Homo sapiens: one gene and its partners. The protein of the gene in region 7 purifies or fractionates together with the protein of the main gene of each other region. This does not show direct contact. Each region holds a gene or a part of one and is shown on either strand. Other genes may lie near its edges.

Region 1 (3,500 bases), on a different chromosome or scaffold from region 7:
TGCTCTAACCAAAGGGGCAACTTCCTGTAACAGCCTCCCTTAAAGGGTCATTCCCTTTAAACTAAGCACTCTTTCCCCACTGGCTAATCCGTTTTGAGTTTTGTTAAGTTGCAGGGAGTGTTGAGGCTGCTCTGTGCCCTTTGATCTGGCCTGGCTCCATACTACTGGAAGGCAAAGGGTCTCAGAAGCCCCCATGGTAGGGTCTAGAAGAGTGATGCCTCCTGTAACAGAGGAAAGGGTCTTTTAAAATATCCTCATGAAACAAAATGTAGACTGGGAAAGAAAGTGACCTTGCAGTGACACCATGAATTCATCCTGTAGACCGTCCAGGTCCACCCCAAATTGTGAAGATTGAGGATGTCTGGGGAGAAAATGTCGCTCTCACATGGACTCCACCAAAGGATGATGGAAATGCTGCTATCACAGGCTATACCATTCAGAAGGCTGACAAGAAGAGCATGGTAAGGTCTGGCTTTCTCTGGTTCATCAGTAGCAAAAGGCACATTTCATCAGAGGTAAAGGAGATGGCACAAGGGCCTCACTGGTAAGGAGCCAACTGGGGCTATGGAGAAGTGATGTGGCAGAGCAGAAAGGAAAAGACCTGTGGAGCCACAGAGCTGGTCTTAAACCCCAGCATTGCTACTTAAGACCACATGTATAAGGACCACACGTGACCACAATCACTTGAGCTCTTTGATCTCTATTTTCCTCATCTATGTAATGGGGGCACAAATATCCCTTGCTTGATTATTACAAAGCTAAAATGATATAAAGCAACTGGTTCAATGTTCAGTAGAATTCAATAAACTCATTCATTCAACAAATATTTGCTCAAGACTTTGACTCAGATTTACACCCATGCAACTCTTTCTCCTTGTGAAATAAATGTTGGATACTGTGCACTTATGTCTACAAAAAAGTAAAAAGACAGACACCAGTTAGAACAGAAAGATTCTACAAGGTTACAGCATGTGCAAATGCGGAAAGGTCTGGAGAAAAAGAGCTTAATGCAAACTTGTCCAACCCGTGGCCCACAGGCCTCATGCAACCCAGGATGGCTTTGAATGCAGCCCAACACATATTTGTAAACTTTCTTAAAACGTTATGAGTTTTTTTATGATTTTTTTTCAGCTCATCAGCTATCGTTAGCGTTAGTCTATTTTATGTGTGGCCCAAGACAATTCTTTTTCCAGGGAAGCCAAAAGATTGAAAACCCCTGGCTTAATGTGTTTAAAAAGCAACCTAGTTGGAGTATGACTTATTATAAACTTATTTTATAGATGAGGAAACTGAGGCTTGCAGAGGATAAATGACTTGCTAAAGATCACCAGATTTTCTCACGCCTGAAATCCCAGCTACTTGGGAGGCTGAGGCAGGAGAATTGCTTGAACTCGGAAGGTGGAGGTTGTAGTGAGCTGAGATTGTGCCACTGTACTGTAGCCAGGATGACAGAACAAGACTCCATCTCAAAAAGAAAAAACAGAACCAAAGTTAATAATATCAGCTGGGAGCAGTGGCTCATACCTGTAGTCCCAGCACTTTGGAAGGCTGAGGCAGGAGGATTGCTTGAGCCCAGGAGTTTGAGACCAGCCTGGACAACATAGGGAGACCTCCTCTCTCTAAAAAATAAATTAGCTGGGTGTGGTAGCACGTGCCTGTAGTCCCAGTTACTCGGGAGGCTGAGGTGAAAGGGTCTATTGAGCCCGGGAGGTCAAGACTATAGTAAGCCAAGATTGCATCACTGCACTCCAGCCTGGGTGACAGAGTGAGATCCTGTCTCAAAAAGAAAAAAAAAATAATAATGTTAAATAAATGTACTGGATATTACTAATGTTTCTCTAGTGATTTAGCTTCAGGTCTTTCTCATAATAAGTTGGCACTAAAATTCTGTAGTTATACTTTATTCTACAAAAGATAGCTAGGAAGACAAATAGGTAGGTAGACAGGTAGATAAATAGATGACAGACACCTAAAGGTTATGAAAAAATATAAAGATAGTAGATGGCAACTAGGGTATATGAATCTAATGTGTAAATGAAGATTAAATTACATAGTCAATTGCAAATAAGTTGTGAAATATTAAACAAAATATACATTGTTTCAACACATTTTAACAACATATATTATTACTCTCCATATAAAAATGAGTGGTCTTTTTTTCTTTTTGTTAATAAAGCATCCTTGTTATTTATCCCAATCTACAGTTAGAAAAATTGTATACTTTTAGGTGATTTTCCTCCAGTTATTATTTTTTTTTCTTTTAGGAATGGTTTACTGTCATTGAGCATTATCATCGAACCAGTGCCACCATTACTGAATTGGTCATAGGGAATGAATATTACTTCCGGGTCTTTTCTGAAAACATGTGTGGCCTCAGTGAGGATGCCACCATGACTAAAGAGAGTGCAGTGATCGCCAGGGATGGTGAGTTGGGAATGGACTGACATTTGAAAACCTTGGTTGACAGTGACCAGACAGAGAAGACTGGAAAAAGAGATGTGGTGAAAGGGAACAAAAAAATGGTAAATGTACATTGTAAAATTATGATAATGGTGTTCAAGTAAAATTTTAATTTTACAGGTAAAATTTAAGTGAAATTGTATTATTATTGCATTTTTTACAAATATAGGCTTTAATTAATTCCAGGTTCTAGGCAGTGGATCTATAAATGGCTAATACCCCAGAGGCTGGAAGAAGTAGACATTTTCTTCTAGAGTTTCTACTTTTATTCTTGGACACCTTTATTGTAGCTACACATGGGACCCACTCTGTGATAAAAGGAGAAACTAAATTCTATCCTTATCTTTTCTTTTCATCATAAACCACTCTTCTTAAAACCTTCCTTGTGTATTTTCACATTAGAACAAATTTCTATTCAAAATACTCAGAAAGACACCAAAGTCTTCTCAATATCTGGTTCAGTTTCAGATGACCCCTCTGGCTTTCTATCCCACGTGTGATTGGCTATACGTTTATACCCCTCAGAATGTTTGCCACATGGCATTTGCTCATCTTTGTCCATGTTTTTCTAAGTTCAGGGAAGTTTTAATCATGTGTAAAGTATGCCACCAATAATATATTCTCAGGCCAATTTACATAATTTTAACATATTTGTAATGCTTGTTTTTAAGGTAAAATCTACAAAAATCCAGTGTATGAAGACTTTGATTTCTCAGAGGCACCCATGTTTACTCAGCCTTTGGTTAACACCTATGCCATAGCTGGTTACAATGCCACCCTAAACTGCAGTGTGAGAGGAAATCCTAAGGTACCATGTTCTTCTATCACATCAGTTAAAGTCCCTGTCTTGTATTTGTTGTGTTATAATGTAAGTAACAATGTAAACAAATCCAGCTGCTACTTGTGTCTTCCCAGGATGGGGGATTAGAAGGTGGTAGTGGTGGTAGATTATTAGGCACACTATTCAGATGTAGTAGTAAAAAATGCTTACATTTCTTTGCTAAGGGATTCCTTCTAAAGAAAAAGCAAACCACCTATTT
Region 2 (3,500 bases), on a different chromosome or scaffold from region 7:
TTTTTTTTCTTTTTTGAGACGAACTCTGACTCTGTCACCCAGGCTGGAGTGCAGTGGCGTGATCTCAGCTCACTGCAACCTCTGCCTCCCAGGTTCAAGCAATTCTCCTGCCTCAGCCTCCTGAGCAGCTGGGATTATAGGTGTCTACTACCACACCTGGCTAATTTTTGTATTTTCAGTAGAGATAGGGTTTCATCATGTTGGCCATGCTGGTCTAGAACTCCTGACCTCAAGTGATCTGCCAGCTGCAGCCTCTCAAAGTGCTGGGATTACAGGCGTGAACCACCATGCCCAGCCTGAACACATGTAATTAACACATATAGTAACACATGCTATTTATTTATTTATTTGAGACAGAGTCTAGCTCTGTCACCCAAGCTGGAGTGCAGTGGCACGATCCTGCTCACTGCAACCTCCACCTCCTGGGTTCAAGCGATTCTCCTGCCTCAGCCTCCGGAGTATCTGGGATTACAGGCACCTGCCACCCTGCCCTGCTAATTTTTGTATTCTTAGTAGAGACAGGGTTTCACCATGTTGGCCAGGCTGGTCTCCAACTCCTTACCTCAAGTGATCTGCCCGCCTCAGCCTCCCAAAGTGCTGGGATTACAGGCATGAGCCACCCCACCAGGACAACATATGCTATTTCTATCAGGTTTATTTTTGAAATGTATCTGAAATTTTGGAAGACCATTTAATTTTCCAGAAAGTTTTATCAAGTAAAAAAATGCATTATTACTTAATAAACTATCACTTCATTTCAATTTCCCTTTAGGATTATTAGGTCTTTTCTCTCCTCACAAACTGGAAAGCAAGCTCCCACCTGTAATCCGCTGGGGTGCTCAGAAGTCTGACAGATTCATCATATTACTCCCAACTGTATTCCAACACTCAACTGGGTATTAATTAAATAACCTAGAAATGGCATTCTAAATATGGCACACCTCTTAAATTGGGTTCAAAGTGGCATTTAATGTATTTTCATCATCTTGAGTTGTCTCTAAACAGCTACACTTCAATTGGCCTTTCTTGAAGAGCTTCCTGTGTTATATATTTTACCTTAATATTTAAAACAGCTCGGCTATGAGAGAAATGCTGGTATGTTCTATAGAGCTCAATGAATAAAGCATACATTCTCCCTAGAATGAAAGGATCTTTGCAAATATAAACAGTATTTTTTCAAACAAGGCACTCAATATTTTTATCCTTCCAATTATCTCAGCAGCAGAGAAAAACCAGTGTCACAAGTTCCACTGACTGCAGTCCAAAGCTCACTGAGCGTTTCACAGCAAAAGAGCTTTGTCTTTTAACTCTTACAGTTTTACTTTTTACTCAACAAAACTTTTGAAGGAATTTTCTTTATGAGTAGATGTAACTGCCTTAGCTGATAGAGCAGATGCTGGGATTCCCCAAGATAAAAAGATCCTATGAATCCCCATCAACCCAAATTCTTTTTTTTTTTTTTTTTTGAGACAGAGTCTCACTCTGTCGCCAGGCTGGAGTGCAGTGGTACAATCTCGGCTCACTGCAACCTACGACCCCCTGGTCCAAGCAATTCTCCTGCGTCAGCCTCCTGAGTAGCTGGGACTACAGGCGCATGCCACCACGCCCAGCTAATTTTTGTATTTTTAGCAGAGACGGGGTTTCACCATGTTGGCCAGGGTGGTCTCGATCTCCTGACCTTGTGATCTGCCCACCTCGGCCTCCCAAAGTGCTAGGATTACAGGTGTGAGCCACCGCGCTCAGCCCAACCCCAAATCTTTTCACCTTCTTCCAGACCAACACACAAGACCCGGCACAGAATCACTATAAACTGTGGGCCAAGGAGAGACACAATGAAGCTTGCTGAGCTACCTGCAGGGGACCAATGCACCCATCCTTGAAATCCCTCCAGGAGGGCTAAATTATGGTTTTAAAACAATACACTTGTCTAGAAGAGACATTTATGGGGCCAGGCGCAGTGGCTCCCCGCTGTAATCTCAGCACTTTGGGAGGCCAAGGTGGGTGGATCACTTGAGGTCAGGAGTTCGAGACCAGCCTGGCCAACATAGTGAAACCCCATCTCTACTAAAAATACAAAAATTAGTTGGGCACGGTGGTGCATGCCTGTAATTCCAGCTACTCGGGAGGCTGAGGCAGAAGAACTGTTTGAACCCAGAAGGTGGAGGCTGCAGTGAGCCAAGATTATGCCACTGCACTCCAGCCTGGGTGACACAGCGAGACTCTTGTCTCAAAAAAAAAGACATTTATGGGTATCGATCAGCATCCTGTCTTTGTCGTGGGGAGCTGTTCTATGCACTGAAGGATGCTGAGCAGCATCCCCGGCTTCTACCCAGTCAGCAGTGCATGTACACGCACCCAGTGGTGACAACCAGCAATATCTCAACACTCCCAAATGTCTTCTGGATGGGGCAAAATGAGCCTGGGTTAAGAACCACTAGTAGAGATGCATGCGTGTAGTTTTAGCACCTTTAAATATACCAGTACTTCAAATTAAATATTTAAGGTCATATAAAATATAAATTGTGACTTATGAAATCACAGAGAAAAACAATTTAGTCAGACTTCAACTTACGGATGTTAAAAATCAACATTTATATCAATGTACCCTGCCTGATGAAAACAACTCCTAAATGGTAATACTTCATAAATGTGTATTTCTCACAATAAGAAAAGGAATAAAATGGTTCCACCAGATAATACTGTATATTTTCCAGGAGGCTTCTTTCTCCCAATATCCAAGATTCATATCTTACAAACATCTGTATCTTAAATTTCAGATTTAAGTCTTAAAAAAAGTACTATAGGTGAGGTATGAAATATTTAATGTTTATATCAAAAAGGGCAAATACCATAAACCCACACTGAACTACCCATTTGCACTTTGCCTCATAGTTGAAATAACCTATACATTACCGGAAAGGATCTGACACAAAATTAAGCTGCAGCCACGAGTCCAGGTGGAGCACCTGTCAGGTGGAGGGGAGCACCAATGCCCCTCTGCAACCAGTGTCGCCCAGCACTCCCAGGAGGGCACAGCAGGGCCGCCTCGGGGTCACAACTGCAGCACCAGAGCTCCCAGGGATGCTGTGTTCCAAGTGCTTGTCCTCTCCGCATCTGCTCCCCAGAGCGGAAAAGCTTCCCTTCTGCGTCACACTCTGCTGAAAGTCCTCCCAGTACTTTTGGTACTGGGATAGCACCTTTCTGATCTTTTTGGTTGAGAAAGAGGAGATATGCTAGTCCAGGCAAGGATACGCTTAAAACCTACAGGCTTTAAAGCTAATACTGATTTTTGTTGTTATTCAAATAATGACAAGAACACATACAATTTTTCCTGCACTTCAAGGTAAGCTTTGTTAAAATGATAAGATATCAGGGGGCTCAAACATCGAATACAATATACGAATAAGGGCCACTTTCTAAGGCGGATTTTTCTACAGCAGGTTAAGCATTAAAGTCCCATTTACCACAAGCCAAAAATATCAATTCTGAGTGTGTAAAAC
Region 3 (3,500 bases), on a different chromosome or scaffold from region 7:
TGCAGGTGACATTCGGGGATGCCAGTGACATCATGGAACTCCTTAATTTACATGTAAAACTTTGTGTATAATATCTTCATTTTTGTGGAAAGAGCTCTAACCTAAAAAAGATTACAGATTGCTGCCATAGTTGGCAAAATAAATAGTGGTTAACCCCCACCAATCTCACTCAGGTCAAAGGATTGTATATAGCATTTACAACATGATTTAGATTTATAGTGGAATTTTTCAGGCATCTTTGAAATGCTCTTTTATATAGTAGCATCGTCTTTAACATTTCATTGTATTTGTTCCAGGTATCTGTGGGACTCTGTTTTTATTTTTTATTTTGCCAGGACACTGTTCTTATCACTTTCTTGATTTTATTTAAACATCATTATAGTGTGGTGGACACACTGTTCTTCACAGAAGCATAAGCTGCTCTTTTAAAAATAATTCATGGCCGGGCGCGGTGGCTCACGCCTGTAATCCTAGCACTTTGGGAGGCCGAGGTGGACAGATCACGAGGTCAGGAGTTCAGGACCAGCCTGGCCAGCATGGCGAAACCCTAAAATACAAAAATTGGCCGGGCATGGTGGTGCGTGCCTGTAGTCCCAGCTACTCGGGAGGCTGAGGTGGGAGAATCACTTGAACCCAGGAGGTGGAGGTTGCAGTGAGCTGAGATTGTGCCACCGCACTCTAGCCTGGGTGACAGAGCAAGACTCCATCTCAAAAAAAAAAAAAAAAAATCATTTACTCTAAGAAAAGTGACATTTGGCCAAAACCACAGGCAAGTGAAAGAAGAAACTATGATGAAAGGTAGGGGAAGAATAATTTTTTTTTTTTTTTTGAGTTGGAGTCTTGCTCTGTCACCCAGGCTGGAGTGCAGTGGCGCGATCTCGGCCCACTGCAACCTCCTTCTCCTGAGTTCAAGAGATTCCCCTGTCTCAGCCTCCCAAGTAGCTGGGTTTACAGGCACCCACCACCACGCCCGGCTAATTTTTGTATTTCTAGTAGAGACGGGATTTCACCATGTTGGCCAGGCTGATCTTGAACTCTTGACCTCAAGTGATCCGCCCACTTCAGCCTCCCAAAGGGGTGGGATTACAGGTGTGAGAATAAATATGTCATTGCTTCACTGAAAGCAAAACAATTTCCATTGTTAGCCACAGAATTATCAGAATTGTCGTTTCAGAGCAACTGTGCATGGAACCAGGAAAGTAAATGATTCTTTAGGGTTTTAATGAAAAGGGTTCTGCTTGGGGTGAGTAGAGTAACATGTTTGCCCACATGAAGGCATGAAGTTGGCTGCTGCTTAAAGACTGTTGCATGGCCTTAACTTGACCAGCCACTGTCTTTGCTTCGATCTTAAGGATTCATTTTACATTCTAATTAGCATAGAGACACATGACACATTTTGAGTAGTGTGGTTTCTTGTTTGGGACTTTTTCAATTAAGCACGGATTATGGTTGTCTTTTGTACTATAGTTAGCAGTATAAAGATGGCAGTTAATAAAAACTTCTTTTTTTTTTTTTTGGAGACAAGTTCTCACTCTTCTTGCCTAGGCTAGATTGCAGTGGTGCAGTCATAGCTCACTGCAGCCTCGAACTTCTGGGCACAAACAATCCTCCCACCTCAGCCTCTTAAGTAGCTGGGACTACGGGCATGCACTACCATGCCCAGCTAATTTTTATATTTTTTGTAGAGCCAGGGTCTTGCTGTGTTGCCCAGACTGGTCTCAAACTCCTGGCCTCAAGCAGTCCTCCTGCCTCTGCCTTCTAAAGTGCTGGGATAACAGGTGTGAGCCACTGCACCGGGCCTAAAGTCTAAATTCCTATGTGGCCCTGCATCACTGACTCCTGCCTGCCTCTCTGACCTCATCTTACCTCACTCTCCCTTTTCCTCCCTAAGCTGCTTCCATCACCACACTGGCTTCTCTGTTTCCTCCCAGGTGCCTCTCTCCTTCCTCTGGCAGCCCTTGTACTTGCTATATACCCAGCCTGAAACATCTTCTGAATTTTTGCATGACTGACTCCTCATCGCATGGCTCTCCGTACTGAAGTTACCTCCTGAGAGGCCTTTTCTGACCACCCATCTAAAGTAGTTCCCCTTTCTTCCCACCAGCTGTAATCACATCATCCTGGTTTATTCTCTTCATAGCACTTACCACCACCTGAAATGACTGATTGTTTACCTGTTAGTTGTTTTAAGTCCCCAAGAGTGCAGAGATCATGAGGGCGAGGACCATCTATCCTCTGTCCACCACTGCCTAGATTAATGCCTGGCACGTGTTGTGTTTAATAAATGTTATTACACAGTCTTACTGTAAATCAGATATTCTTTCATAATTTTACATATTTATCAGACAGTTTGACAATTAAGTCCCATACAGTCAACTCTGGTCCTTTTCTCCACTTACTCTTTGAATCCTCATTTCACCTTCAAATGTCCTCACAGTAACTCAGGTGTTTTATCAAACCAATGTCTCATGAAGCCCAGTATTCTTTTCCTGAGGATGGTACCCAGTGATGCTTTGAGGAGAGTATGGCTGACGACCTTGCTTCGGAAGGCTGGCGAAGATCTTCTGCTTCTCTAGCGTCTCTTGGCAGCCTCTTCTGGATCTACTCATGAAATTATCAGAGCTTTTTTTGGATAAGTTAGAATCCTCATCCTTTTGAGTTTATGGATTCCGTAGGTTTTGTATTTATATAAAACAATGGGGAAAAGTCATTTATACATTATTGAAAATGAGGCTCCTGTTAACCTACTTATGTATTTAGATTAGCAATCTTTAAGGAATTATTGCACAACAAAATATACTTAAAACTGCATTCAATATGGTCTTAGGTTTCAAAGGTATCTCAGAATCATCGTGAACTGACCCATATTACAACTAAAATGACCTCTTCAATGGTGCTTTTTGCTGTCTGGAATCTGAAGAATATTAGTGTTCCTTTTATTCGTATTTAAATGACTGTCTTCATACTTTTGTCCTCATTCTAGAAGGAAGTTAATTGTTCTCTGTACTTGTAAGGATCTTAGATTTTGAACAAAAGATGAAAAGCAGGACATAAAATAGTTTCTGAGTAGCCTTTTGCCTGACAGTGTTCTGTGTACACCTGCTTGCCACCTGGTTCAAGTCCTTATCCTGAGGTGCTTGTGGGTCTATGCAGACAACAGTAGTTGGTAGTTGAACAGTGTGTGTCTGGCCTCCACCACTGAGTGTGTGAGGTTTGAATCAGTCTCGGAGTCCTGGGGCCTTGTCTGGCTTTCAGAATCCAACTGTTGTCTTACTTCTGTTCTATAGGGCGGAAGGCTCCCTTTATATCATTTCCCACATCCTACTTCTAAAGATTAATTCATGGAGATAGGTCTGCCCTATCTGCCTTATCTGGGCGCTGATGACTAATAAGGGCACAAAGATGTTATTGCCATCAACTGAACTTTCCCTTCCTGCAAGCATTTTGACTTCCTGCACTTTTATACAGGATGGAGCTGGCCGGAACCAAACTTGTCTCTA
Region 4 (3,500 bases), on a different chromosome or scaffold from region 7:
CTAGCCTCAAGGCCTCAAGTGATCCGCCCGCCTCAGCCTCCCAAAGTTCTGGGATTACAGGCGTGAGCCACCGCAGCTGGCGAGGTTGCTATGGATTTTATTGCCGTTGTACACTTTATATAGAATGAAGGACAAGTTTTCTGAATTGTGAAGTTTCTAGTCCTGCTGGATGTCACAAACCCACCCAGCTCTCTGTTGCTAGGATTTCAGGGTAGGCAGAATGGCCCAAAAGATATGCCAGTCCCCAGGATCTGTGAATACCCAGCATTACATGGCAACAAAGACTTTTCAGGTGTACTCAGGGGTTCAGATTTCAAATAGGGAGATCACCGTGGACCTTCCAGGTTAGATTAGTTCAATCTAATCCAATGAGCGTTAGCAGAAAACTTTCTGTGGCTGGGGACAGGAGAGATGAGGCAAGAGGGGGAGAGGATGTCAGAGATTCAGAATGCCACCTGGAACCTAATGCCATGTCTGACATTTGTGTTGCACCCAGACTTTCAAAACAAGATCTCAGCTGTCCTTCTGTGTTACCCTCCCAGGAATGCCAGAAAGTAGGCAGAGAAAGAATCGCCAATCCAGTTCTTCTAATGAGGAGCCCCAGGCAGAGAAAAGTTGGTGGTTTGCCTACAGTGGCTTTTCTCGTTAGTGGGAAGACAAAGGGTAGGACTCCAAACACACGGTTTTCAGCCCAGGAACCTTCCAGAGACCACCACAGGAAGGAGGTGTAAAATGTCAGCCTGTCTACTCACCTTTCTATAGATGGCAAAGATGGTTCCGATGGAGGCCAGGCAGTCAATATTGGAAGATCCATCCAGTGGGTCAAAGCAGACCACGTATTTCCCCTAAATCAGAGAGGAAAGCACCAACTGATCAGCACATCTTCCCATTAGCACAATTGCTCTGTGTCAGGGCTGTGCGTGGCAGAGTACACCACATCAAAAAGAGATTGAGAACCACAGCATATCTTTATCAAAAAACACCATGACTTACGGAGGGCAGGGTGCCAGTTTATACACAAATACTCCTCTGGGTTTTGTATCCATCTCACCTGTCTGATGCGAAGACCAGAAGATAAAGTGGGTGTGTCTTGAGAGACCAACGTCCCCCACACCCACCCACTCTGCTGTCACAGGCAGCTCAAGCCACCAAGGGAAGCCCCAGGTCCTTTTTATAGCCCCCTGTGTGCAAGGTCACGAGAGACCCTTAGTGATGGCGACCGGAACCCCCAGGCCAATTAAACACGGGTAATGCAACTTCAAGAGAAATGAGGGTCATTTCTCCCTCCACTTGATTTAGTTTTCCCTGACTTTCCAATGAGTATTGGCCTAGCTTCATTTGAGCTTTGTTTCTGTTTTTTTTCCTTGCTCAGCCAGAGTAGAAAAGTTAGATAATTTGTAAACTTGGAAATTCCCCAACATCTCTATAATAATCCAATTTTTTAAAAAAAAATCCAATTTAGCCCATTCATTCATGCATGCATGCATTCAGCAGATACATGTTGAGCTTCCAGCATATGCTGGGAAGTAAGTGTTCAAGGCCCTGGGGTTTGTTTCCGGGGGGTCAGCGATCCCGGCAGCAAGGCTGGATTTCATGGCACTGACATTCCAGTGGGAGAACAGACAGAGAGCACACAGGTCAGGACACATACAAGCAGGCTGTGGCACGTGCCCTAACGAAAACCCACATAGGCTGGGGGCTGGAGAGCCATGAGGGGGGGTCACATTTGATGACAGACCTGACTAGAATTAAGGAATGAAGAAACACACAGAGACCTAGAAAGCAAAATTGTTTGTTTTCTTGTTTTTGTTTTGTTTTGACAGAGTCTCACTCTGTTGCCCAGGATGGAGTGCAGTGGTGTGGTCAGAGCTCGCTGCAGCCTAGAGATCCTGGGCTCAAGCAATCCTCCCACCTCAGACTCCCAAGTAGCTGGGACTACAGGTGCACACCACCATGCCGAGCTAAATTTTTATCTTTTGTATCTTTATGTTGCCTAGGCTGGTCTCAAACTCCTGAGCTCAAGCAATTCTCCCACCTCAGACTCCCGAGTAGCTGGGACTACAGGTGCACACCACCATGCCGAGCTAAATTTTTATCTTTTGTATCTTTATGTTGCCTAGGCTGGTCTCAAACTCCTGAGCTCAAGCAATCCTCCCACCTCAGCCTCCCAAAGCACCGGGATTGCAGGCGTGAGCCACCGCGCCCATCCTAGAAAGAAGAATTTTCGACAGAGAGATCAGCAGGTTTGGAGTATTCAAGAGCTGCCACGGGCCAGGCATGGTGGCTCACGCCTGTAATCCCAGCACTTTGGGAGCCTGAGGCGGGTGGATCACCTGAGGTCAGAGTTCAAGACCAGCCTGGCCAACATGGCGAAACCCCGTCTCTACTAAAAACACAAAAATTAGCGGGGCATGGTGGCGCATGCCTGTAATCCCAGCTACTCAGGAGGCTGAGGCGGGAGAATTGCTTGAACCCGGGAGGCAGAGGTTACAGTGAGCTGAGATTGCGCCATTGCACTCCAGCCTGTCCAGCCGGGCAGTAGAGCAAGACTCCGTCTCAAAAAAATAAATAAATAAGTAAATAAATAAATAAAGGAACTGACATGAAGACCTATGTGGCTATGTGGCTTAGGCCAATAGGAGAAGACAATGGTAGATCAGACTGGAGAGAGAAACAAGAGTCATATCAACTGAAACTGAAAGTTGGAAGTAATAGTGTGATGTAGCTAAAATTATGTGAGACGAGGGCAAAAGTGCCTTTTGCAGTACCTGGCATAGAGCAGAGGTTAAATAAATTTGGCTTTACTTTAAATTCTTTTCCATTCCTCCAGCTAATCACAAAGAAATGGCCTCTTGTCTATTGACTATATTGCAGCTGAACATTGATTGAAACTTTTGGCCATTGGCAAACCTCTCTGTATAATAAGCTGTGTGTGAACCCATAGTGAATGCAGACCCTCCCCAGCCGTGCCTTCCTTCACCGACTTCACCATCCTACGAGGTAAGAGCACAGGAGGCTTGTGGTTTTGTTTCTGGACCAGTCTAACAGCTTGTCAGGCACTAAGAAATCTCTGCTGAAACTGTAACCCCTCGCAAAGTGCCGGCTGGGGGCGGGGGTGGAATGAGAAGGCGGGGCGGTGAGAGGCTGTACAGTACAGCTCTTCCCTGGACTCCACAAGGTTAAGCCCCCAAAAATTTGGCTCTTGTTACTGATTAAGTGAACAGCCACGAACAAGCGCCCACTGAGGCGGTTCCTGCATCACTCTGAACAATTTCCTGAATGAATCACTGTCCTACTGTGGAGTCTTCTTTCTCTAGACAGCACAAGATTTCCAAGTAGAGAAGTATGTAATCCTTTGTTTCCAGAAAACAAATGTTAAGAAATAGAGGAGAATCCCGGGAATTAAAGAAAAGTAAGGCAGCTTATTTCCGGCTCAGTATCATCATCTACTGGCGAGCGGGCACCGCAGCCCCATGACGCACCCGCTTCTCCTTGGCGGT
Region 5 (3,500 bases), on a different chromosome or scaffold from region 7:
AGAACATCTAATATATATTAGATGTGCCTGGCACATTTCAGCCAATAAATGACAACATCTCAAACTCCTTCAGAATTGAGCTCTTGGTCACTCAAACTTTCAAACTGTTCCCCCTCCATTTTTCATCTCATCCATCCAAGGAGTAGCTCACTCCACTCTCTCTTTTCTTCTATCAGCCCTAGCAAACCAGTCCATCATAAAGTCCTGCTGTCCATTTTTATTGCAAAATCTCTTTCAAACCGGTCTGATTTTCAGTCCCCACTATTCTGCCATCCTAATGCAAGCCACTGTACTGTATTATCTTTTTCCTTGGTGCGGTGCCTCCTGCACACACTCTGCACCCCTTGCAGTCTGTTTTACTACCAGCAGCCTGAAAAAAAAAAGAAAAAGTATTTGCCGTCTTAAAGTTGTCAGGGCTCTCAGGAAACACATTTATTTATTTTTGGGATAAGATACCAAATCCTTGACATTACTTCAGGATCCTGCATGATTTGATCTCTACATCCACTTGCATCTCTTGCTGTCATCTTGGCCAGTTCTCCAGCAGACTAGCCTCAGGCCTGTGGCTCATGCTGTTGGTCTCCCTATTTTAGGATCATCTCCTTGAGTAACTTATCATCCTTGGGTGCTAGCTCAAATGTCCTTTCTCATAAAGGTCTTCTCTGACAAGCCCACCCTTATCGTCATGCGAATTAAATGTCCTTTATTTTCTCCCTCATAGCGTAATCACTTTTGCTTCTGAATATTTACCACAATTTATATATTATTTAATCACTTAGGGTCCTTTTCTTGCCCTTTAGGTTAATATGAAGTTGATAATACCTGGTTTAATCACCAGTGCCCAGTATATGTAGTAGGTGCTCAATAAATATGTTGATATAATGAGTAAGATCGTAATATCAGTTTGTATCTTTATCTTTTTTTTTTGAAATGGAGTCTTACTATGTTGCCCAGTTGGTCTTAAACTCCTGGCCTCAAGTGATCCTCCTGCCTCAGCCTCCTGAGTAGCTGGGACTACAGGTGTGTGCCACCATGCCTGGCTTCTGTATTTGTATCTTGATTGCCTTCTTTATCACTGTTAAATTTGCTTTTCATGATAGAAAAGCCAGACCCACACTTTTCTATATTCCTTCTTTGCTGGTTATATGTATAATATGAAACGGCCTTTGCAAATATCAGGTAAAAATGCATGTAGGTTCTGTGAAATATTCGTAGTAATAAATTGAGACACCTTTTAATTAGTGTTACCCTTGTGACTTTCTGTTGTACATAATCCTTTTTCTAAATACATCATTAAAATAATTATTTTTTTATCAGCATAAGCTTACTGAAAGGAAAAAAAATCTTACTGTGCCTTACTATTTTACAGAGCGTCACATGATAACACGTTAGTCAGCTGCTGTCGGCTGGTGGTGCCAGACATCAAAGGAAGATTGGGAAAACTTTAGTAGAAAAACAAGACCTAGAGTTCTAAGGATGCTCAGTGCTGTCCAGCTGTTGATGTGACTTGCATGGTAACCAGACATCACTGGACCATACACTTAAGAGAGAGGAGGAGTTTTTTTTAAAAAAAGTGGGAGCCACCTAGAAGTCTGGAAGTTCTTTTCTTCTCTCTCACTAAAGCATTCCTTGTTTTAGCCAAAAAAAAAAAAAAAAAAAAAAGTCTCATGACCTTCCAAGGCCAAGGAAGGCTTACAGCTTTGAGTATTTTTGTCATGTGGTTGCTCTTTACGAAATATTAGCTTGATGTCCTCTAACTCTGAAGTACTTATGTCTGTTATTGATGTTTGTAATCTCTACTTCTTACATAATTCTGCATTTTTCTCTTGACTTGTTTTTTAGGACTTTAGTATTCCTTAAAAATCATTTCCTCACACCCTTAGAGTGTAGTTCTAGTTCTTTCTAGTTTTGTATCTTATAGATCACTGAGTGTGTGGGGGCACTTTGGAGCTGATTCAAGTCCTTCAGAACGTACTCCTCTGCAGTCCACCTCGGGGGTTCCCAAACTGTGATCCTTTGAGTGGTCTGGACCCTGAGGTTTCCGTAGCCTGGGTGCTCTTGGGTTGGGAGAGCAAGGAGGATGAAAGCAGCATTTTTGAGCCCCTGTTGGGTGCTCTCGAAGAGGAGGAGTGAGTAGTTTATCTGGTCAGAATTGGAAAAGTGAAGCTTAGGCTTTCTTTCCATATATTTGCTTCACAAAAGAAAATTGTTCCTTTTGTTCCTACATTTCCCCACTCCTGATTTTCTAGTCAGGAAGGCATGAGAAGAGAGAGATGCCCCTGCAAGCCAGACCCTTACCCTGGTGCTTATTTAGACCTGATTTTAAAAATGTTGAGAGCAAGCCCTGAGAGGGGCACACCAGGTGATTTGCCTCGTGTAGGCCCTCTGTGCCTGCAGGACATTCGCATCACGAGTAGCTGCCACTGTGGAGGAGAGGAAAGTTATGGTTGGGAACCCTTGTTATTTTTTTTCCACCATGTATATATGTCCACTGGTTACTTGGGTGACCTTGAACAAGTTGCCTTGAGCTTTTTAACACCAATAATATTTATTACCCATTTATTTCACAGACTTGCTATAGGATTTAGAAAGCTATTCTTAGCAAGTGTTTTTTTTTTTTTTTAAATCACATTCAGATATATCACAAAATATTGCAGTGAACTGTAGGGCTGTCCAAATTTTATGTATGCAGCAAAATATTTTCTTACTCATTAGCATATGTTTTACTCTTTGTTTTAAAAAGAAATCAGATGTAAATGCAGGTTATAACAAGAGGAGAGCTGTGATGGTTTGCTACCAGGTTTTATGTAGGTAATATATTTTGTCACTGTTGTTATATTTGGTCACTGTTGTTAGCTATCATTGGCTCGTGAGTGCTAAATCATGTTTATCCTTATAGTAATTTTACTATTGGAAAATCGCTTAAGACTAAATTATTCTTCCAGATACAAGTATATATGTTTAAAAGAAATTGGGATTCTCTTTAATGGATAGATATTGGGCAGAAAGTAAGGTTTTACCCTTATTTTTGCTTAAAATATTTGAGTGGATTTATAATCGATGAAACTCTACTGTAAAAATACCAGTGAGAAATAGGGATGTTTTGTAATGTTGAAGGTAAAATTTGTTCATTTCTATGGGAAGTTCTAATACGTTAAATGTCAGAATATCTTATAGTAGTTTATTTGTGCTGTATTTTTTCTTTTTAGTGTATAATGACTTCCCTTATATTTCTTTTTTTAAACAGCTTTATTTAATTAATTAATTTATATATTTTTTGAGACGGAGTCTTGCTCTGTCGTCCAGGCTGGAGTGCAGTGGCACGATCTTGGCTCACTGCAAGCTCCGCCTCCCGGGTTCATGCCATTCTCCCGCCTCAGCCTCCTGAGTAGCTGGGACTACAGGTCCCCGCCACCACGCCCAGCTAATTTTTTACATTTTTATTAGAGACAGGATTTACCATGTTAGCCAGGATGGTCTTGATTTCCTGACCTCGTGAT
Region 6 (3,500 bases), on a different chromosome or scaffold from region 7:
AGGCCACACCACAAAAGCTGGTCCAGGTCCAAAGATAGCTTTCGCTTTGTTTCATTACCTCAGCTACCAAGTGAGGGAAACATATAAAGTCAAAGTTTGATGAGGCAAGTGGACTGACTTCCCCAATGTCCCCCTTGTTCCTCCTCAAGAAGGCATTTCTGAATTTTGGCAGTCTTGGCCACCCACTGGGCTTGCTGCATTTACCCATTTTGTTGGAATTGCCATTGAGAACCAGAAAGGCAAAGTGAATTGCTCAAGGATAGTAGCGTAGCACTAGAGCTTATTAGTTTTTTGGTACTCAGGTGTGGTATTCTTTTACCACATTTGTTTTCTTCAAACACGTCCTGTTTTTCTGTGTGATAGACTATGAGAAAATATGGTCTTAGGAACTTTTTGTTGTTAGAGATGCTCTTTAGTTTAGTTATACCACCTCAAAGGTCATACCAATAGGACTTCCATTTCTCTTTTACTAGGGACAGAAATGATCTTGTATCTCTTAGAGCTATTTGGACAAGGGGAACTGGCATCCTTTTCTCTCTCATCCAGAATGTATGTATCAGTTAATATTGCAAGCTGAAAAATCCTTTAAGCTTCTGTTAGATTCTGGCAGAATACAGTTCCGATATCAATTGTAGCTCCCAAACTGCTCTGCAGTGTTTTTTCTGGCACAATGAAGCCTTTGGCCATCACTGCTACTTTGAAAATCAAAGCCTTTTGGTCTCTAATGGAATGTTTATAAAAATACTCCATTTTGAAATTTACTCAAGAAAAGGAGGAAGTATGGTAAATGATATTAGAAATCCCTCCGGCTTGCCTTGGCATAGCTTCATTTAGTGTTGTATACTCCAAATATCTAGAATTAGTGTGAATACAAAAGTATTAAAACCCAAAGATAAATAAGCTCATGTCCTTCTTCTATGGAAGTATAGCATCAGATACTTATCCCTAATTGTTATTTCTCTATAATAAGGTAAATTGCCCTTTGCCAAATTTAATATAGTTATCTTGGATAAGCTGAAAATTTCCTGACACATGTCAAAAGTCTCATCTATTTGCAGTCTTACTAAGGTGAAGTTTTTTGGGGTGGAGCAGTATAGAATGTCAAGCCTGTAGCAAAAAAGGCTGTACTGTACATATGTCAGTCTCTGTTGCTTTCCTGGGTGTCAGTGAAATAAAGTAAACAGTCAAATGTAGTAAACAAAACATGTTTACTTTAGTAATACAGTGACTGTCATAATACTTAACATGTAAAAAGAAGGCCAAGGACCTTTAGCTTATCCTGTGGTGTCAACCCTGTCTCAATGTAAGGCACTAGTGTATCTTAAAGTAAGAGAATGACTTTTATTCAAGAAATACACAACAGGCAAGTGCCGTATACCAGGAATTGTTCTAGGAATCTGGCAGTGAATATAAGACAAACTACCTGCTCTCCTTGAGCTTCTATTCTAACGTGGGAGAAAGAAAGCAAATAAATTACATGAATTGATTAATTGATCAGTTGCATGGCTTTTAGTATACATTTCTGTCAGTCTGCCAACCAGCACAGGTCCCTTATTAGCATGGGAGAAGGGCCTGATCACTGAAAGTATTATAGATTTATAGAGTATTGAAAGGAAACTTAAGGAAATTGGGGGCAGTGGCCTTTTAGAAAACAGCCTAACTCCATCAGTGACTTCTGCTTGCTTGTGCCTCTCATATGTGATCTGCTACTGGCCTTTGTTACTTCTCTCTGAAATAACACAAAAATTATGTTTAGGGCTCTCATTGACTTCAACTCCAAACCATATGTTACTTCTTTTAAAAACATAATTTCTAAAAAAAAAAAATATATAGAGAGAGAGAGGCAAATACAGTATCTTAAGATGATACTATATTTGAAATTCCAAGCTAAAACCCTGGAACAAGAAGCTGGTAATATTTTGGGAAGCATTCTTTATTTTTGAGTAGTCTTTCTGTGTGTAGGCCTCTAAGTTCCCAAAGATATCCTTTGGTAGCAACTGACTTACTATGTAGTAGCATTATTTGATTTTAAGTCATTTGATTTTTTTATCTGAGGAGATACCTTTATTATAAAAAATTTTACTTGAAGAAATTTATCTTGATAAGCAAATGTAAGGCTGTCACTTTTGCTTATTGGCATTAAATAAACATACTACAGTTTTTCCATTTAAAAATGTGGGTTATTTGATTATGCCAGAGTAGTTACAATCAAGAACTAACAAACATTTGTACTTAATGTACTGAAAGGTCTTTGCCCACTTTTTAAAAGTTCTCTTGCAGAACTACAACTCTGTGAAGTACTACATTTATAAGCCAAAACATTTTTAACAAAGAAGAAAAATTCCCATCATTCATTTAACCAAATACAGTAGTAAACTTTGTCTTTAAAATGGGGAGGCTTGTTATTATAGTTGCTTTTGTTTTTGTTATACCTGTGGTTTTTGCTGTGTTTTTTTAGAAGTTGAAGGGAGCGTGCTCTCTCTGGGGGTTCAGTTAATTGCAGTGAGTAAATCAATATTCAGCAATCATGTCTTTTAAAGCCCTTTCTAATCTTGAGATTTTATGATTCTATATTTACCTTTGCCTCTGCTTTTTCCTTCAGTGATAAGAGTGCAGGGATTATGTAGGGGTTGAGATGGGGAATGAATTGGGCTAGTGGTTTAGGAGGTGATGGGCATTAAGTGGGAGTTGAAAACATGTTGTGGTTGATTCTAAGAGGGGCAATTGCTATTGGCTTCTGCTTTTTTTGTAGTTTTTTTTTTCAATACTAAATACATGTTCTTAATTGTAATTATTTTTCAAATTAGGGGAAAAAAGGAAGAAAAAGATAAACCCAAAGATAAAAATAATTTTTGAAAGTCACCTTCTCATAGCTTCCTCCAAACAGACAATCCCTTAATTCTTAGAAATGGGCCAATATATAAATCATCAAAAAGATGATTAAGAATAGGCTTTGAAAAGAATTTTGGAGGAGATAAGGTATTTTTCACGGGATTATGTTATTTATTGGCTCATAAGTTTCCTGAAAGATAGAATTTATTTTTGGTGATAAGATTGAATTTAAGGTAGATATTTTATGTCCCTTGGAGCTAGACAGTCTTTTTTATCTTTTGTGTTCCCAGCCCCAAATATACCACCTAACCTATACTAGGTACTCAAAAATTGTTTCCTGAGCTTAACACAGTACTCATTCTTGGTGGAAATAACAGCAAGATAATCCCGGTGTAAAAGGAGTAGACTTTTTGTGAATAAGGGAATTCTTTTTCAGTCACTCTCCAAAATGTTCTCTTTCAGAAAGTGTACAAAAAAATTTTTTTTTTTGCCTAGTATATTGGAATCACAAGCACTGACTTCATATTTCAAAGTTGAAAGAAATGAGATAGATGTCCCACACAGCTGTAAAATGCCAAAAATAAGTAGTGCTGACATAAATTAAAGGCCAGTGCTCTGAAAAGCCACAGAAAAGCTTCAGATCAAGGGTGGCTATAATTGAAAGGGCC
Region 7 (3,500 bases):
GCTAGACCTTAGACAAAGGACCAAGCATATCCAAGCTTTAGGTTCCTCATCTGCAAACAGGAAGAATAAAGTCCATCCCAGATGATTTTTTCAATGGAGGGAAAAAGCAGACTTTGCTTCAGCTATTCATCAAGGCAGTGGCAAGGCCAAAAACATTAGGTGTCTCCTAATTTTGTTCTTTATGGCTACCAGTTTAAGCTGCCTCTCCCCCATCAAAAAAAAAAAAAAAAATTTCATGTTATCATGTACATTTTTCTCCAGTTAGCCTCTTTAGGTTTTCCACAGAATTTCAAAATATAAGCATTGTAAGGGCTTAGATGCCAACAGATTCTAACCCCATCTTCTAGAGATGAGCAAACTGATATTCAAAGTGGGTGTCTTGCCAAGGTCACATTGTAAATTAAACCAACAACTGAATCAAGGATTACACACTTCTAGCCTGAGGCAAATTCCACAGGATTACCTAGATTCAATTTATCAGCCAATCTTTGTTCAGTACCTTCTTTTCCTACAGCTGAGGGACATGGATCTTCCTACTGCCCTTAACCATGAACATTTAAAGAGGCATAATTTTGAAAAAGCATTTTAAGCTGGTCCATGGGGATGCAGGGAAGATTAATATGTGATGAATAAATTAAAGTTTGCAAAGCACCTATGAGCTTCTCAAAGAAAAGGTGAAGTATAAAAGTAATAAAAGCACTGTTATTACATAGAAAGGTCAGACTACAAGAGAAAACATAATCTGAGAACATCTCAGCACCAAAGTCATCAGCAAAGGTCCCATAACTTATCTTTTAATTAACATTAACATGGCATTTGAAGACCTTGCCTTTCAATCAGCTAATTTGGAAAAAAAATCAGAATATGGCTTTGCAACTGCTTTGTTTTAATTAATTTTATTTTTTATTAATTTAAAATGAGGGGCTTCTAGTTCTCTACAAATTATTATTACATAAAGGGTTAAGTCACTCTCTGAGGAATTCTTTTAAAAGTGGCATGTTGCTGTTGATAAGGAACAGGAACTTAATACCCAGACTGCAAAAATAAGATGACTTTATTAGTATCCTAGCACCTTCATATCAAAGCTTTAAATGTCATACTGTAGTTCCACAAGACTTACCTCTTATTATTGCTTTGAGGTGGCAGGGTTTTAGCTTTCTGGCAGCTGTCACATCATTGAGAGCAGAACGAAAATTGCCTAACAAAACACCGTTTAGTAAAAGAGAGAAGTTTTGAGATCAAAATGTTTCCAAAATTTTATATGTAGTGACAAAGACACTCTTGTACAATCCTGGGGAAATACAAATGAGAGCAACTGTTTTTTTGAAAAAATATGGTTGTACTTGTCAAGAGCCTTAGAAATGTCTATAACAGGCAATCTACAGAACTGTAAATGGCTAGTAAGCACATGAAAAGACGTTCAACATCACTAATGATTAGGAAATTAAAATTAAGAAATTGCTAAAAGTTAGACAAATAATATCTAGTATTAGAAAAGATATGGAAAAGGGGTACTCTCAGGGTAAATTAGAAAGCAAATTAGCATGTATTTTGTACATATACTTTGACACAACAATTTTCTTCTGGAAAATTATCAAAAATACTTGAACAAATGTGCAGGGATAAATGTAAAAGCATGTTAACTACAGCATTACTTTAATTGTGAAAAGCTGGAGATAACTCAAATATCCTCAATTTGGTAATGATTACATGAATTATGGTAAATCCATACTATTGAATACTATGCAGCCATTAAAAAGAATGAGATAGATCCTCATGTAAGAAACACGGTAGGATGTCTGTTCTATATTGTTTTAAGTGGTGGTTCTATGAGTATAGAGGAAGCCTATTTAAAAAAAAAAAAAAACTAAATATCTAGACACACATGTATATATTTGTAAGTGCATTAAAAAAAAAAAAAAAGTATGCAGTCACACACATACCAGTTATCCAAACTAGCAAGCCATGAGGTATACTTTAACTTTCTGGAGTATACTATAATTATTACTTAATGGTTTAGTATTTACCTAAATCTCTAGCCCAGGGGTCAGCAAAATATTTTGTAAAGGGCCAGATAAATATTTTAGGTGTTGCAGGCCACATGTGGTCTACTGCACATTCTTCTTCATTTTATTACAATTCTTGAAAAATGTAAGAAACCTCTGGGGAGGTGGCTCACTCCTGCAATCCCAGCACTATGGGAGACCGAGGTGAGAGGATTGCTTAAGACCAGGAGTTCAAGACCAGCCTGGGCAATATAGCAAGACTCTCTCTCTACAAAAAATTTTTTAAAAATTAGCTGGGCATGGTGGTACATGCCTATAGTTCTACCTACTCGGGAGGCAGAAGTGGGAGAATTGCTTGAGCCCAGGAGTCTAAGATTGCACTATGCTATGATCACAGCTAGTACACTCCAGCCTGAACAGAGTAAGACCCTGTCACTTTAAAAAAAAAAAAAAAAAAAGTATGGAACATTTTTAGTTCATGGCAAGCCAAGGGGCCAGGGGTGGACTCTGAGTCCTAGTTTGCCAAATCGTGCTTTAGCCTAATGAATAATCAGAATTATCAGAAAAATATTATGACTTTATTTATTTTTGCATTATTTATAAAAACCAAAAAACAGTCTATATACTCAACAATAGCAGACTAATAAAGCAAACAGTATAAATAGTGGCATGTCCATATGATGCAACTTTAGCTATTGAAATAACATTCAGAAATGATTTTTAATGACGGTGAAATTGTTTGTTATAAAATTAAGTGAAAAAACTGAATATCAAACTGGAAGAACAGCAGGATCTCAACCATGGAAAAAAATGCACATGAAAGGGATCCAAGGACTTTTAGTTAAAGGAGGCAGATTGAACACATACATTTAACTCAATCCCCACTCTCTCTCCCATAAAGACAAAGAAAATGAGAAGAACACAGAACACATTGTGAAAGCTGGAAAACAAAGGAACAAGTAACTGATGTATCAGGCTTAAGGAAACTGAATTCTAAACCAGTAGAGGGAAAGCACAAAAGCTACCAAGCTGCACTGCAGAAACTACAAAGTACTCAGGACTCAGGAACTGATGGCACCAGGTACCTCTGGAAGTGGGGGTGAAGGTGGGTTGAAAATCTACTTAAGAAGCAGTCAGAGTCCCATATTCCTTACCCCTCTGCTGCACCAGTGACCTACTCCTCCCCTGTTCCTCCAGGTGGAGGACTGGAGGTTTACCCTAGCAGACAATAAAACAGTAGGTCTCTGGACTGGAACCCCCAGGCACAAAGGTGATTCAGTAAAGGAAATATTAAAGATTGAGCCCTTGGTCCTCTTCTCCTACTTGGTTCCCAAAGTACCAGCAGCCAGGATTTCCAAAAAGAGAAAAAAGAGTAAAAAAGAAAAAGAAAAATATCAAAGCATTCAGGAAAATGTCCTAGAAACATGAGTTTCCAGACTGAAAAGGTCCACTGAGTACACAGCACATTGGGAGACCAAGGCAGGTGGATCACTT

The links.
Region 1: the proteins of TTC4 (region 7) and MYBPC1 purify together in Homo sapiens (co-immunoprecipitation; one large-scale study listed by IntAct). This does not show direct contact.
Region 2: the proteins of TTC4 (region 7) and NAXD purify together in Homo sapiens (co-immunoprecipitation; one large-scale study listed by IntAct). This does not show direct contact.
Region 3: the proteins of TTC4 (region 7) and GNS fractionate together in Homo sapiens (co-fractionation; one large-scale study listed by BioGRID). This does not show direct contact.
Region 4: the proteins of TTC4 (region 7) and FBP2 purify together in Homo sapiens (co-immunoprecipitation; one large-scale study listed by IntAct). This does not show direct contact.
Region 5: the proteins of TTC4 (region 7) and RASSF8 purify together in Homo sapiens (co-immunoprecipitation; one large-scale study listed by IntAct). This does not show direct contact.
Region 6: the proteins of TTC4 (region 7) and OBI1 purify together in Homo sapiens (affinity purification with mass spectrometry, with the first as the bait; one large-scale study listed by BioGRID). This does not show direct contact.

Annotation. Positions count from the first base shown.
Region 1 is NC_000012.12:101,674,971-101,678,470, forward strand, and holds part of MYBPC1 (myosin-binding protein C, slow-type), read left to right. Parts: intron 1-321; coding exon 322-461; intron 462-2,264; coding exon 2,265-2,424; intron 2,425-3,131; coding exon 3,132-3,268; intron 3,269-3,500. UniProt on the Homo sapiens protein: Thick filament-associated protein located in the crossbridge region of vertebrate striated muscle a bands. Slow skeletal protein that binds to both myosin and actin.
Region 2 is NC_000013.11:110,618,545-110,622,044, reverse strand, and holds part of NAXD (ATP-dependent (S)-NAD(P)H-hydrate dehydratase), read right to left. Parts: intron 1-3,500. UniProt on the Homo sapiens protein: Catalyzes the dehydration of the S-form of NAD(P)HX at the expense of ATP, which is converted to ADP.
Region 3 is NC_000012.12:64,752,907-64,756,406, reverse strand, and holds part of GNS (N-acetylglucosamine-6-sulfatase precursor), read left to right. Parts: intron 1-3,500. UniProt on the Homo sapiens protein: Hydrolyzes 6-sulfate groups in N-acetyl-d-glucosaminide units of heparin sulfate and keratan sulfate.
Region 4 is NC_000009.12:94,583,825-94,587,324, forward strand, and holds part of FBP2 (fructose-1,6-bisphosphatase isozyme 2), read right to left. Parts: coding exon 3,483-3,500; intron 846-3,482; coding exon 753-845; intron 1-752.
Region 5 is NC_000012.12:25,961,682-25,965,181, forward strand, and holds part of RASSF8 (ras association domain-containing protein 8), read left to right. Parts: intron 1-3,500.
Region 6 is NC_000013.11:78,617,656-78,621,155, reverse strand, and holds part of OBI1 (ORC ubiquitin ligase 1), read left to right. Parts: intron 1-3,500. UniProt on the Homo sapiens protein: E3 ubiquitin ligase essential for DNA replication origin activation during S phase.
Region 7 is NC_000001.11:54,718,861-54,722,360, reverse strand, and holds part of TTC4 (tetratricopeptide repeat protein 4), read right to left. Parts: intron 1,199-3,500; coding exon 1,121-1,198; intron 1-1,120.